Homo sapiens: one gene and its partners. The protein of the gene in region 1 interacts with the protein of each later gene in a biochemical or structural test. Each region holds a gene or a part of one and is shown on either strand. Other genes may lie near its edges.

Region 1 (4,114 bases):
TCTCCTGCCTCAGCCTCCCAAGTAGCTGGGATCACAGGTGCCCGCCACCACGCCCGGCTAATTTTTTGTATTTTTAGTAGAGACAGGGTTTCACTATGTTGGCCAGGCTGGTCTCAAACTCCTGACCTCAGGTGATCTGCCTGCCTCGGCCTCCCAAAGTGCTGGGATTACAGGCGTGAGCCACCGTGCCCAGCCAATGAAGGTTTTCTTTCTCCATCACATCCCTTTCCTTTCTTAGAAACTTCGAGACTGGGGCTGGGTGCAGTGGCTCACGCCTGTAATCCCAGCACTCTGGGAGGCTGAGGCAGGAGGATCACTTGAGCCCAGGAGGTTGAGGCTGCAGTGAGTTGTGGTCGAACCACTGCACTACAGCCTGAGCGACAGTGAGACCCTATCTCAGAAACAAAACAAAACAAAACACCCTGCAAGACTGGGATAGAGGGCAATGGATATTCCCACAATGCACTTTTCCTAACCCTATGAGAAACAAACCAAAGACATTTTTGGAGAAAGCTGCTTTCTGGAGCAGTTTCAGTTTTATTTTTGTATTTAAGGCTGAAGGACAGTTTCAATAAACATGCTTCTTCCCAGAGGGATTTCAAAGAAAGATCGTTTTTGCATGTCATATAGGGGAGAATGAGGACATGAGACACCAAGAAGATGAAGTTTTCAGGAGCAGAGGAGAAACTTTACACCAACATGTCTGAACTTCATTGACTCACTACCTGGAGCCATTTTTTAGCTGTTGAGTTAAGAAACAGAAAAAGGAGCCTGGGGCTTCTGACTCTTTCACCAGGCTTAGGGGAGTGAGAGGAGGGTTTAGACACGGGTAGGGCCTCTTGGCCCCTTGGTGCAGCCCCGCTGAGCCATCTCCTCCTTTGGCTGGGTGACTCCTTTCTGCTGCCTTGACAACTCCTGGAGGAGAAACAGATGGGGCCTCTGGGCTCCTCCCAGCCCTGTAGGGTGGGGCTCCTGCCCTCCTTCTTGAAGTTTACCTGTTGCTGCCACAAGTTCTGCTCCCTTCGTCTTTCCTTTGAATCCTGGGTGGTGCAGGAACTAGCCTTGTTCAGTGGACTTGGGGAGAACTGGAGGGGAAATTCGCTGTGTTTTCTGTTAAGCCAGCACTGACCCCAACAACTCCCCTCTCTAGTCCAACTTCCCAAAAGTCTAAACTGAAAACAATAAACTCACCTTCTCATGAATCAGATTCTGCAAACAGATGTTCACCTTTTGAATCTGGGCTAACGGGGGGCGACCAGGCTCTGAGTGTAAATCTGTTAGAAAATTCTAGAGGAGGAGTTGGAGGCTGACAACATGGTGAAAACCTGAGGTCGTCTGCCACTCTATTCCTGTCACCACAGGCCATCCCTCTCATCTGGATCCCCTCGTCCCAGTACCCTCCCAGGCAGGTGGGAAAATCCAGTACTCTCCACCTCCATCTCTTTAGCACATCAGTTCCTCCATCTCCCTCAAATAGCACAATACCCCCTTTCACTACTCTTCATGGAGCCTCCCTGTCCATCCCTGCCCCATTGGAATAATCCAGGCCACACCCTCATCTCCATGGAGTGATCCAAATCCCTCTGAATGGAATGCAGACCAGCTTCCTCCAGCCCCAACAATGAACACCAACTTAACACTTGGTGGCATCCTGTCATTACGATGCTGCCTCCAACTCATGATCCCTGACCATTAACTCTCCCCTCTCCAGAGTGGTCTCAGGCTGTGTCTACACATTCCCTGTTCCTCCCTCCCTGGTCCTCCCCCCATTCACACAGAGGGGCAGCCCCCATACCTCACCAAGGGCCCCTAGATGCAGCTGCTGTCGCTGTGCCTCCCTCAGATGGTCTTCAAACCAGGCCTGGCCATGCTGTAGCAGCTCCAGACCCTGCCACAGGGCATCCTGTTCTCTCTCCAGAGCCTGCATCCTGCGTAGCTGGGAAAGGCAATCACAGAGGCTGACTCTCACGCCACAGTAGGGCTCTGGGTTATGGCCCTTTCTCTCCACCCCTAGTTGGGTTCACTGTGTGGTCACTGAGTGTGAACCCAGACTGGCCACTGAGGACCTGGAGGGCAAGGGGAGGCAGGCGGGAACACTGTGGGCCCTCAAGTTGAATGGAAATATAAAGGGCAGATCTATTGAGAGAGTTCCCCTGGGACCTCTTGTTGGGCTGATACTCACCCAAAGGAAGAAGCTCTGGGCCCCTGGGTCTTGGCGGCTTGTCCCCAGCGGCAGCAGCAGGACTGTGTAGGGAGCCTGCACCAAGGGCACCCCGCCAGAGCCCTGGCTCCCCATGGCTCTGAGGTGGGAAGGGTGGAGCCACTCCCACTGGTGCAGCCCGGGCTGGTCCCTCCCCTCCACCCCTGCCTTGCACCCATCCTGCCTCTGTCAGCCTCTCAGGCCCCTTCCTGCTGTGTCTGTCTGAGGCTGGGGTGTTCCTACTTGAGAAGAGAGACCATCTCCCTTGGACCCCTCTGTCTTCCCTCTAATCTGTTTTGTAGGGCCTCTCTGAAGGGGTTCGTTCTCATGAAGTATCCTGGGGTAGAATCCGGGAGTCTTCCTACAGCAACAACACTGTATTTTTACTGAGGCAGGGCAGGTTCCCCTGTGGACTCCTGCTCTGTGTTTTGGATCTTTCCTAGTCTCTTGTTTTGAGACTAAAGAAACAATATCTTTCTTCAAAATAAACTTTATTCCTAATATGAAACAAAATTTCTAGAGAAACTAAAAACTCTGCGTCTGAGGGAGATAAGGAAACAAAGAGGGCATGGCAGCCCACCGGAGTCTCAGGAGGCTGGGGAGGACACTGGAAGGACTCTCAGAGGATGCTGGTGGCAGCAGGCAGCACTTCCTGGCTCATGAAAACGTTCAAGTCCAGGTTAGGATCTTCCAAATCCAGTTTCATAAACTTATCCACTAATGTCTGGCAACTGAAGAAGAGAGAAAATCGCAAGATTTATGGCAGAATGGACAACCAAATCCCTGGGCAGAGGGGAGAGGCTGTGGCACAGAAAACCTGGGATCTTGAAGATTTAGGGATTTCAGAAAGAAATGGTGGGTTTCTGAAGGGCAAAGTGCTGGAGGAAGGCTGAGTCCCTGAAAAGGGGAGAAGAGTTGCAGGAGAAGATGCAGAGAGGGTAAAGACACTGGGGCCATATACGCACTTTTCCATTTGGTTCTTCTTTAGCAAATCCTTGACAGGCTTGATGGGTTTTCCACTGCGGATCAAGTCTGAGACCTAGGAACAAGCAAGAAGGTGGGAGGAGTAAGGGGAGTGGGGAAGAGAAGGGGAAATAAGGGTCAGAAATCCTGTGGACCTAGACCCAGGCCCAGTAGGACTAGGAATGAAAGGGAGCTCTGATGTGGAGGTGGTTGCACATTTGGATCTCATCACCTCCTTGCCACGAGCCACAAGCTTGTCAGGAAGCCCAGCCTGGGCAGCTGTGTGGGAGGCATGGCTGGCCTTCGCAACACCTTCGCAAACCTGATAGAAGAAGACAAGATCGTTGCCATCCTCACAGGTCTCCATGGTCTTAAAAGAGAATAAAAGACAGTGTATCATCAATCACCTCCTTCCTGTCCTGAAACCCTTGGCCAATCCTGTGGGGAGGGAGAAAAGGGAAGGGATGTGGTCTCTGTGCTGAGGGAGCCCTTGTTCTGATAGAGGAGCCAATCCCCACCTCTGGGAAATGCCCAGCCTGGGGGTCCCCGAGGAGCTAGATTGGTCTCCTCACCAAATACTGCACCAGGGGCCCTTGTGGCAGCAGTTGTAGCTGAACAAGGCTCAGAAAGTTGGTGGCCACAAAGATGTGGGGGCATGTGGGTCCACGTGCCAGCCAGTGTCGGAGCACAGCGGCCAGAAGCGCGAGCCCATCCACCTGCAAAGAGGGCAGAGGTTAGCATTCGGAGCCATGGGGACCCCATATGCCCCTCTGCACTTGCACTGCCTTTCCCTGTCTCGTGTTCTATTTCTTTTCTGCCCACACAGCCCTATTCCATTCCAGAGGCCCAGCCTCACTGTCATGCTCCTTCATCCTCCTCCATTTTCCCCTCCTTAGTTTCTCCCCTCATCAGTTTCTCCCCTCACCGTGTTGGTTCCCTTTCCAAATTCAT
Region 2 (3,500 bases), on another chromosome or scaffold:
CAGAACTTGAGTGGATTTTAATTTCTCCGTTATTTCTACTGATTTTTGTCTTACGTAGCATTTTAGAATATTTACATTTCTACCAAGATTGCAGCATTTGAAAAGTTCCTTTTTTTGCGGGGTTTTTTTGTTTGTTTTTTTGAGGCAGGGTTTTGCCCTGTCACCCTGGCTGGAGTCCAGTGGTGCAGTCATGGCTTACTGCAGCCTCAGCCTCCTGAGCTCAAGCGATCCTCCCACCTCACCCTCCCAAGTAGCTTGGACTGCATGCACACACCACCACACTGGGCTGATTTTTTTTATTTTTTGTAGAGACGGAGGCCTCCCTGCATTGCCTAGGCTGGTCTCAAACTCCTGGGCTCAAGCAGTTCTCCCACCTCAGCCCCGCAGAGTGCTGGTATTACAAGTGTGAGCCACTGCACCTGGCCCAAAATTCTTACGTTTATTGATGTATGCTTTTATACATTTTACTGCAGTGAGCATATATATAAATTTATAAGTTTTTTATGATTTTTATATTCAATATTTGCTCAGCATGTTTTTAAGAGTTTTTAAAAGTAGGGAACAAAATATCTATTTGTTTTATAAGTGGATATGTCCCTATTTGTATTAAGTATTCTTATATTGAAGACTTCTAGCATTAAAAGAGTGAAATATTTGTGTCCTTGAACACTTTGAAGTTTAGTATTGCTATTAACTTGTGATAATCTACAAAATACTTTAAATGCAGGTACACAGGCTAAGTTAAAAGAAGAAGTGTTTATAATATGTATTATGAGCAGTTACATCTGCAGTAAAGGACTGTTAAGATGTGATTGCTGAATTTTTAAAACATTGATGGCTTGAGGATAAATGGAAATAGTAGTTTCAATATGTGGCTTCATGGAAGAGGGAGGATGTCAACAAATGAAAAAGGAATGGAGAGCTGAGAAATTATCTGATATTGAAGCTATGGGATTTAGGAATTACAGAAATTCCTTACTTAAAATTGTTAATTCATAGAATATTGAAGAAGAACAAAGGTATTCACATTTTTAAAGCCTGTTGGTTCTGCCCACCATCACCAGACAATGTTGTTATTTCTTCTCAATAATTTTGTTCTTGTGAAAATATTAAAAGTGTAGGTAAGCATAATTATGATGGAAACAAAAGTAAAACATAATTTCGCAATGTCACTTTGGAATAACAAGTGCATTTGCGAAAAGATACTAAGAAGGAACATGTGGGATAAAAGGAATCTATTCGTAACTCTAGGAGCAGCTGTATGTCTAAGTGTCCCTTGATTGCAGAACATATACTAGTAGATAACTAAATAGATTCTTTTCTATTTTAAAAAATATTAGTGTGAGGGAATAATTACCTTGTAGTTTTCAACCATTTCTTTCTGGGCTTAAGTTCATATTTATGGATGAGAATCTAGAACTGTTTTCCAAACAGGTCTTGGGTTTAGCATTGCTGGAGGTGTTGGAAATCAGCATATTCCTGGGGATAATAGCATCTATGTAACCAAAATAATTGAAGGAGGTGCAGCACATAAGGATGGCAAACTTCAGATTGGAGATAAACTTTTAGCAGTAAGTATAAGAAATCTATTGTCTTTTAAATCATTTTGTAGTCTGTTTATTTTTCTGATAGATACTGGAATTTCTCCATACCAAAAAGGTCTAAATGATGTTTAAATTAGCAAATACTAGCCTTGCTGTATCAAATCCTAAAAAATGATTCTTGGTAATTCTTTATTTGTCATTTCTCTTTTCTCTGCTAGCTCCTCCTCCCTTTTCCTTTTATTCCTTTGTTGTTGTTGAGGGCTTGTATGCACAGAGTGTTTCATCATAATCCTTAGGTTTATAAAACAATGTCATCATTTGTTTATGCATGACCCTTTTTTATTTTACTTCACTTAATAGTATAATGAAACCTAGTAATTACCCAGCCCAAGAATTAGAACATCAACCATTTTGTGTTTCTTATTCCTTTGCTTCTTAAAAATTGTTTAATCAGGCCGGGTGTGGTGGCTCACACCTGTCTGTAATCTTAGCACTTTGGGAGGCTGAGGTAGGTAGATTGCTTGAGCCCAGGAGTTTAAGACCAGCCTGGGCAGCATGGCAAAACCCTGTCTCTACAAAAAATACAGAAATTAACCAGACCTGGTGATATACACCTATAGTCCCAGCTCCTTGGGAGGCTGAGGTGAGAAGATCACCTGAGCCCAGGAGGTTGAGGTTACAGTGAGCTGTGATTGTCCCACTGCACTGCAGTCTGGGTGACAGAGTGAAAGCCCATCTCAAAAAAAAAAAAAGTTTAATTATATACATATGCCTAAATAATTTTGTTTAGTATTATTTGTTTTGAAGCTTTTTCAAAACACTATTGCACTGTATGAGACTTTCATCTCCAGTATTTTTTTCACTCAATATTGCTTTACTGAGACTTACCCATATCATTGCTTAGAGCTAAAGTTCATTCATTTTATCTCTACATACTATTCCACTGTATGTCTGTACTGCAATTTATTTGTCCAGTCTTCATCAGTGTATTAGTTTGTTTTCACACTGCTATGAAGAATTACCCGAGACTGGGTAATTTATAAAGGAAAGCGGTTTAATTGACTCACCAGACTCAGGAAACTTACAGTCATGGTGGAGGGTGGGGGAAAGCAAACACGCCCTTCTTCACATGCCAGCAGGAGAGAGACGTGCCAGCAGTGGAAATGCCAGATGCTTATAAAACAATCACATCTCATGAGACTCACTCACTATCAAGAGAACATCATGGGGAGCCACCTCCGTGATCTAATCACCTCCTACAAGGTCCCTCCCCCAACACATGGGGATTACAATTCAGGATGACATTTGGGTGGGGACACAGAGCCATACCATATCAATCAATAACTGTCTCAGTCCATGTTCCTTAGGGAAACGGAATCTGAAGAAAAGCTAAAGTGCTAAGGTATTATTTGGCTGTGTGATCTCAAGAAGGCTAGAGTGAGTAAAAATGAGGAGTGAAGCAGAGAATGAACGAGAGCCAATAGAAGGTAGAATGTGTCTGAGCTGGCTGTAATTTTATAAGGTAGCTTGTTGCTTGTCATGTATAACAGTCTTCTAGGCAGACACTGTAAAAACCATCCGGGCATCATAAACCTTACATCCAGCCATCCAGAGAAAAGAAAGAAAGGTTTATCTGCTGGCCCTTTTATTCTCCTGTCTCTTGTCTACCCCCTAGGGGTTATTTGTCCCAAGCTTTTGGATTGTGTTACCCAACTCCCCTGGGCGCAGTTTCTAGGGAAGCCAGCTCCTATACTCCATGGCACAACACTTCACCCAAGCCCAAAAATGGTAGAGTTGCAGTGGTATGACAGGTCAAACATAGGTTTGTGACATGTTATGGCCCTCACTGTGTGGAACACATCAGCCATGCCCAGTCCCAGCCAGAAGAGGCTCAGAAAACTGGGAAGGGCAGGAGACAAGATGAAAGTAGTATAATAGTCAGGACTCTCCACTGAG
Region 3 (3,500 bases), about 86 Mb from region 1:
GACCGGCAGTCTAGAGTTGATACGGCAGCTCCACAAATATTAGAGATCCAGATTCCTTCCATCACTGTGCTCTGCCATTTTTAGCTTATGGTTTCCATCCTCAGGATTTCTTCATGTCTGCATTTCAGGCAGGAAGAAGGATTAATCTAAGGAAAGGGCAAAAAGATGCTTCTCCATGATGTTAGCCTTCTTTAAAGAACTTATTATTAAATCTTTCTCAGTAATTTTTGCCAGCATTTCATTGACCATCCCCAGCTGCATGTCAGTCTCCTATTGGCCATATGGCCACTTCCAGTAAAACTGGAGTCTGTTAATAAGGAAGAAGTAAGAAATGGAATTGGGTACCAACCAGTAGCACATTCTTTTCTTTTGCTCTTAATATATTGTAAGCATTTTTCCTGCCACTGTGTACCACATATGTTTTGAGTGTGTAAGAGATAGCAGATATTTTGTTCCTATATGGGACACAGCAATAAATAAGACAGCTATTGCTTGGCAGAGGCAGGACATGAAATGATGTTGATGATATAATGAGAGTAATACATTTATAAGTTTTATTTGTTTTCAGTTAATTTCATTTGGTTAATTAGTTCCTAGTACTGATGTGTTAAAATTCATGAAAATAATTTTAAGTTAAACTCTTAAGTTTTCTAACTCTGTGAATCTGTGTTAGAAGGGTTTTATTTAACTGAAATAAAAGCTCATAACTGCTTCTTCGAGCTATTTGACATTAACATTCAGAAACAATCTAAATTTTCTCTAGAAAAGAATTTACCTGAAGTTTTAACATTAGAATTTGAAAGAGTATGATGAAAAGAACACTGTACCAGTTATGTTGACTAATTTTGATAAAACAAAAAGTTTTAATCTAATGCTATTACAGTTACTATTGTTTATAGATTGCAAATATATTTGTTCTAATGAACTTTACCCAAATGATATCCAACATGTGGGATTTTTCCTTATAATGACTATACCACTAAATAAAATCATTTGTTTGATCTTTTTCTAATTATAAAACTTTTTTCTTATATCTGAAGTCTGGCCCCTCTGTGGAGGAGCTGGTAAGTATATTGTTTCTGTTTTGCTTTAATATGTCACGCTGAAGTGTTCTTAGTGTTTTATTTGCATATTATATGTTGTCACTCATTGTATTTGAAAATAGCATTAATAATGGCAATTTTTTAATGTTCCAGTACCTGAAAAGTTCAGTGGATGGCCCATTGCTCTTTTCTCACTGCATGTTGTTAAACATTTTTCTTTTGTTAGTGATTTATAGCCATTATTTGCAGAGCCTGTCAATTTTTGACAATTTTTGAGCCTTGTAGCTTGCTCATACCTCTACTTCAAAGAGCAATTGGTTTTCCCACTTCAGGGTATTGAAGATATATCAAGCAGGCTTAGTTTTTAACCCCCTTAAGTTTCTGTTTGAAATTATTTCCAGAAAAGAATGTGCATGTTGGTTTCTTCTTCATCTACTGCGTTACAACTTTTCAAGAGTCTTGAGAATAATCGTATGGCCTTTGAAACAATTGAATTTTGAAATGCTTTAGCAGAAGTTATTTTAGAAAATAACAATACATTTTTAATATTTTTCTCATTACCCCAACCTAATCAAGTTCCAATTTGTCTTATGGCTTTACCTCTTTTGAAGATATAATCTTTGGTATCTAAATGTAAAATGAACATCTTGGGTGTTACCTAGTAACAAACAGGTTAACTAAGAACCAAGAAAATTTTTTTCTGGAAATCTAGAAATGGTTAACTTCAGTTTCCTTCATCTTATTCTTGCTTACCTCTGTTAATTTCGGGCCCAAGAGTTTGTCAGATTCATTAGGGATTTGAATCATTAAAACCCCAGTGAGTGGTAGCTTAGTATGTCTCCCACATTTCATTAATGTAGTATAAATAGCTCATTAAAGTAATTGAAAGTAGGTAATCATCAACATAAAGTTTATTTAGCCCATAAGCCAAAGAAATCTTGGTCTAGGAGTGCTCTTTCAAAAGTTGCATCAACTTTAACATGTCATAAGAAAGATTTTTGTTTGTATCTCCAAACTGGTTTCTTTTGAAACAGATACTTGCCCTTTTAGGACATAGGTTCTGAAATAAGAGTTTAATAATTCCAAAATTATGTTAAAAGGAGGATTCTAGATTGAGTTTTTCGAATCCTTTAAAACCAGTATCTAGAAATTACGTTCTAATCTTTTTTTTCCCAGAAATTGAGTCTGCTAATCTTTCATCTGTTTGTCATATATATAACAAATATTTTTAATCAAAGAAGTGATAAATATATCTAGCATTTAGTAGTTGTCATTAATTTTAGCTTGTATGTGTGTGTGTATATGTAAATATATTTTTTTTAGGATTATCGTATTTATTGACTAGTATTCAAATATATCTATTTTGATGTTGTTCAAAACAGTAGACCAAAGGAGGCACATTAAATTAGTACCAAAATATATTCCATGAATTGCTGAAAATTTGCTTAAATTTGTTTCTTAGCTTCTCAATATCCAGAATAAAAAGGGAAATAATTATGTAAAATAATCAGTGCCCATACAATAGAAACAATACTATTCATCATTTCCTCAAGAGAAACAATTTCTCTGGTGCTAAGGTAGGTTTTTATTTACGTCCTCACAAAAGGGACAAAGGGGGTATAGGGAATAATGTCTTCCACATATTGTGAACAAATGTAACCATGTTTTCATAGGATTTGTGGATTCTGTAAAAGCAGTTCTGCTCAGGATAAATGCAAGTTTTCAGTGTTTACGTGGTTTTTTTGATCTATAAATAACAGTTAAAATGTCTATTGGGGTCCTTATTTAACTCTCAAAAGGGTTTTAGAAGTAAATAGCAGATTCAACTATCCATTGAAGCCACTTTTACTAATATGTGATAACATGAGCTTAGAGTAGACTACTTTTCTTACTATACTCCATATCAGGGTAACCCATGGCGTGCAATTATTTTATCTAGAAGTAGTTCCAAGATGTTATGGTACTAGTTCAAAAGAACTACATCCAGATCTTTGTGTTCCATTTTATAGAGATGATACATTGTTGAACTGTAGGCTTTTGTGCATTTTCAGGAACATGGTCTAGTGCTAAAGAGTTTTTATTTTCATTAAATTATATGCTTTTAAAAATTACATAGGAAAGAGAGCTTGAGGCAAACAAAAAAGAAAAAATGAAAGAAGCACAACTTGAAGCTGAAGTGAAATTGTTGAGAAAAGAGAATGAAGCCCTTCGTAGACATATAGCTGTTCTCCAGGCTGAAGTATATGGGGCGAGACTAGCTGCCAAGTACTTGGATAAGGAACTGGCAGGAAGGTGTGTAAAAAATGGGTATTATTGTACTCTTAAGTGACAAATTGGATATTTAATGAGGTTGACTCTTACTTCTTTCTTTTTTTATTTTTTATTTTTTTGAGATGGAGTCTTGCTCTGTTGCCCAGGCTGGAGTGCAGTGGCATGATCTCTGCTCACTGCAACCTC
Region 4 (3,500 bases), on another chromosome or scaffold:
GCTTCAGATACACAGAGGGTTGGGAGCAGGTTTTAAATATCCTTGTCCATCTACAGAGTTCACTTGAATTCTGTTTGAAGGTCTGCTATCCAAATGTGTCTGACCTTCAAATGTGGGTTCAGGGAGTGTATATTTGGGGCAACTTAAATCTATGCTCCCAGGTTGAAAAAAAAAAAAAAAGAAAGAAAAGAAAAAGGAGGCTGGGCACAGTGGCCTGCCTCTGTAGTCCCAGCTACTCAGGAGGCTGAGGTGGGTGGATCACTTGAGCCTGGAAGGTTGAGGCTGCAGTGAGCTGATATGACACCAAGGCACTGCAGCCTGGGGAACAAAGTGAGACCCTGTCTTAAAAAAAAAAAAAAAAAGAGAGAGAGAGAGAGAAAGAAAAGAAAAAGGAAGTGTATATTATTAGAGCAACTTGAATCAATGCTCCTACGCTGTAAAAATAAACAAACAAATGTGGGTTTATTAGGCCTTTAAGAACTGAATGCAATTCCTTGACTATTCTTAAGTATTCTGGTTAGAGAAGAGGATTTTTTTTTTCTTTTCTTTTTTTTTTTTTCCACTGCTTGTAGCAGCAACAGGAAGGATGCTTAATTCAGTCAACAATTGCATTAATTATTGACTCATGACCTATGTGTGCAGAGTGCCCTTCTGGGTGATGGGATCCCCTGCTGGACAGGACAGGCAAAGACTGTGCAACTCCACAGGGCTCATAGTCTAGGGACATAGGAGTGGGGGCGGGGCAGTAAACAAAATAATTGCAACCATCCTACAAAAAAAGCTACCACAATGGGATGGGTGGAGAAGGTCTCTCATGTAACAGGCAAGGTGGGCAGAGTAATGAAAGTGGAGAGGGAGCAGCTGCCCAGGGCAAGAGTGAGCCAGGCAGGGGGAGCAGCCAGTTCAAAGGCCCTGAGGTGGGACAGTGCTGGAGGGGAGGGAACGAAAGGGATGAGGGGAACCTTTTTCTCCCCTTGTTTCTTCTCTCTTTCATCTCCCTCTCTTCATCTCTCTCTCTCTGTGTCCCCTGTCCCTTCCATCTCTCTCCCCTGGATGCTCACCCTCTTTTTGTCTCTCTCTCACTGTCTCCCCATCTTTCACTCTGCTACGACTGGCCATAACCTGAAAGGCAGTATAGAATAGTGGTGAAGAGCTCAGACTTTGGTGCCATATAACCGGGCTCTGCCACTTCCTGTGTGTCCTTAGGCAAGTTATTTAACCTCTCTGTGCTGATAATAATAGTAACCTGCATCAGGGCTGTCGTGGGGATTAAACTGAGATGCAATCATGTAAAGCACTTAGAACAATGCCTGGCACACGTGAGCATCAGTAAGCGGTGACGATTATTATTATTATCACTTAATGTCTCTTTTTCTTTCATCTCTCTTAACTGTCGCCCTCTCCCTGTCCTCTCATCTTTCTCTCCCTTCATTTCTTTCCTCGACGGCCGGCCGTCTTACCCCTTGCTCCCTCCATTTCTTCCCGTCTCTCCTCCGTCTCTCCCCCTACCCTTATGTCTCTCCTCCTCTCTCCCTATATCTTGACCTCTGCCTCTTTCTCACCCCTGCCCTTGCCCCCTAAATCCCTGTCCTCCCCCACTGCCCCCTTGTCACATTCCAGACTCTCCGACGACTCCCAGTCCTCACTCCTCTCCAAGCCTGTCAGCAGCCTGTTTCAGAACTGGCCCAAACCACCTCTGCCGCCACTCCCCACCGGAACAGGGGTCTCCCCTACAGCCGCTGCGGCCCCAGGGGCCACCTCACCCTCAGCCTCCTCCTCCTCCACGTCCACCCGCCACCTCCAGGGCGTGGAGTTCGAGATGCGGCCCCCTCTGCTCCGCCGGGCCCCCAGCCCCTCGCTGCTGCCCGCCTCGGAGCACAAGGTCAGCCCTGCGCCCAGGCCCTCGTCCCTGCCCATCCTGCCTTCCGGACCCCTCTACCCAGGCCTCTTTGACATCCGTGGCTCCCCAACTGGAGGGGCAGGAGGCTCGGCTGACCCCTTCGCCCCAGTCTTTGTGCCGCCACACCCGGGGATATCCGGGGGGCTCGGGGGAGCCTTGTCAGGGGCCTCGCGCTCCCTCTCACCGACCCGCCTGCTCTCGCTGCCCCCGGACAAGCCGTTTGGCGCTAAACCTCTGGGGTTCTGGACCAAGTTCGACGTGGCTGATTGGCTGGAGTGGCTGGGTTTGGCGGAGCACCGAGCCCAGTTCCTGGACCACGAGATCGATGGCTCCCACCTGCCCGCCTTGACCAAGGAGGACTACGTCGATCTAGGTGTGACCAGGGTGGGCCACCGCATGAACATCGACCGGGCTCTCAAATTCTTCCTGGAGAGGTGATGGCTGGCCTGGACGGACCAGCCCCGTCCACAGAACTCTTGAGCCTGCTGGCCTCTTGACCTCTGACCCCTGACTGTCATTCTCTCCCCGGGCCAGGGACTCTGTTCAAACTGCGCCCTGCCCTCATCTCCCAAGGCCAGAGGTCACCAGGTGGCCCAATCCAGGCCGGACATTTGCACCTCACTGAAGGGGGGCAGCTGACACAAGAGTGTGTGTGTGTGTGTGAAGCGGGGAGCGGAGGGGGGATAGGAGAAATTACAGAGGGGAATTGAGAAGGAGGGAAGGGCCTATTCTGGGGGGAGGGGATAGACAGAGCCATAGAGGGTCAGCCCTGAGCCCGATTGGATGGGGACTGTCCCCCAGGCCGCAGGGGAAGGGGGTGCCCTCGGATTCCACCACCTGCCACCCCTCTAACAACCCTTCCCACTCTCTCCAGGCCCCTCAGCTCTCCCCCCTTCCCCTCTCCCCAGCACACACAGCTGCCCCCCTCAGCCTCTTGCACGCTCCGTTGCACGCCTGCTCACCTCTCTCCCCTCCCGTCCCCGGGCTGCAATTTTGCACAAATTTGCCCTCTCGCTGTCTTGCACATTCTGCCTTTGCTTCTGGCTGGCGAGGCCCGCTCAAATACACTCTGCTCTCCTCGCACACGCTGCATTTCCTTTCTCACGCTCCATGCCTCCTTCTCTGCTTCTTGCTGCTTACACACTTTTCCCCTACCAGGGCCCTCCTTTACACACTCCATTTCACATCTCCTCCTCCCCGCTCGCTCTGGACCCTTGTTGCAGACACACTTGGGACACATTTTCCCTCCCCCTCACAGACTCCATGCACATCATTCATTCTCTGGAGTGCCCTGCTCTTTGCTCAGCCCTTGCACACTTGCTATCTTATGCACCCCTCCTGACACACTCTTACCTCCATTTTCTTACGTTGAAGCACTTTCCCTTCTTATTCTTAAAAACCCCAGATTCTTCCACTCCCCAACTCTCCCCTCTCACCATGACACTCCTAGCCCCCCACCCCCCGCCTTCCCTCTTGCCCCTTTTGCACCGTCACTTTTGGTCACGCCTTTTGCACACTTGCCTCCCAGAAACTGTTTCTCTCACACATGCTCATTCTCTTCTTCTTTGCCAGGCTCCCACTCCCTTGCCCCTTTCTGTTT

What was found. The genes of interacting proteins can lie anywhere in the genome.
Region 2: the proteins of SAPCD1 (region 1) and DLG1 interact in a test that uses a peptide from one of them, tested with the Homo sapiens proteins (one large-scale study listed by IntAct).
Region 3: the proteins of SAPCD1 (region 1) and GOPC interact in a test that uses a peptide from one of them, tested with the Homo sapiens proteins (one large-scale study listed by IntAct).
Region 4: the proteins of SAPCD1 (region 1) and SHANK1 interact in a test that uses a peptide from one of them, tested with the Homo sapiens proteins (one large-scale study listed by IntAct).

Annotation. Positions count from the first base shown.
Region 1 is NC_000006.12:31,761,237-31,765,350, reverse strand, and holds SAPCD1 (suppressor APC domain-containing protein 1), read right to left. Parts: upstream 2,696-4,114; 5' UTR 2,297-2,695; coding exon 2,183-2,296; intron 1,937-2,182; coding exon 1,796-1,936; intron 1,288-1,795; coding exon 1,192-1,287; exon of another isoform or gene 1,086-1,191; coding exon 996-1,085; exon of another isoform or gene 916-995; coding exon 820-915; 3' UTR 501-819; downstream 1-500. Other genes in the region: MSH5 (mutS protein homolog 5), read right to left, coding at 2,820-2,931, 3,166-3,239, 3,396-3,533, 3,736-3,879, 4,089-4,114.
Region 2 is NC_000003.12:197,134,613-197,138,112, reverse strand, and holds part of DLG1 (disks large homolog 1), read left to right. Parts: intron 1-1,434; coding exon 1,435-1,571; intron 1,572-3,500. UniProt on the Homo sapiens protein: Essential multidomain scaffolding protein required for normal development. Recruits channels, receptors and signaling molecules to discrete plasma membrane domains in polarized cells.
Region 3 is NC_000006.12:117,575,012-117,578,511, reverse strand, and holds part of GOPC (Golgi-associated PDZ and coiled-coil motif-containing protein), read left to right. Parts: intron 1-1,040; coding exon 1,041-1,064; intron 1,065-3,159; coding exon 3,160-3,335; intron 3,336-3,500.
Region 4 is NC_000019.10:50,660,803-50,664,302, reverse strand, and holds part of SHANK1 (SH3 and multiple ankyrin repeat domains protein 1), read left to right. Parts: intron 1-1,620; coding exon 1,621-2,338; 3' UTR 2,339-3,500. UniProt on the Homo sapiens protein: Seems to be an adapter protein in the postsynaptic density (PSD) of excitatory synapses that interconnects receptors of the postsynaptic membrane including NMDA-type and metabotropic glutamate receptors via complexes with GKAP/PSD-95 and Homer, respectively, and the actin-based cytoskeleton.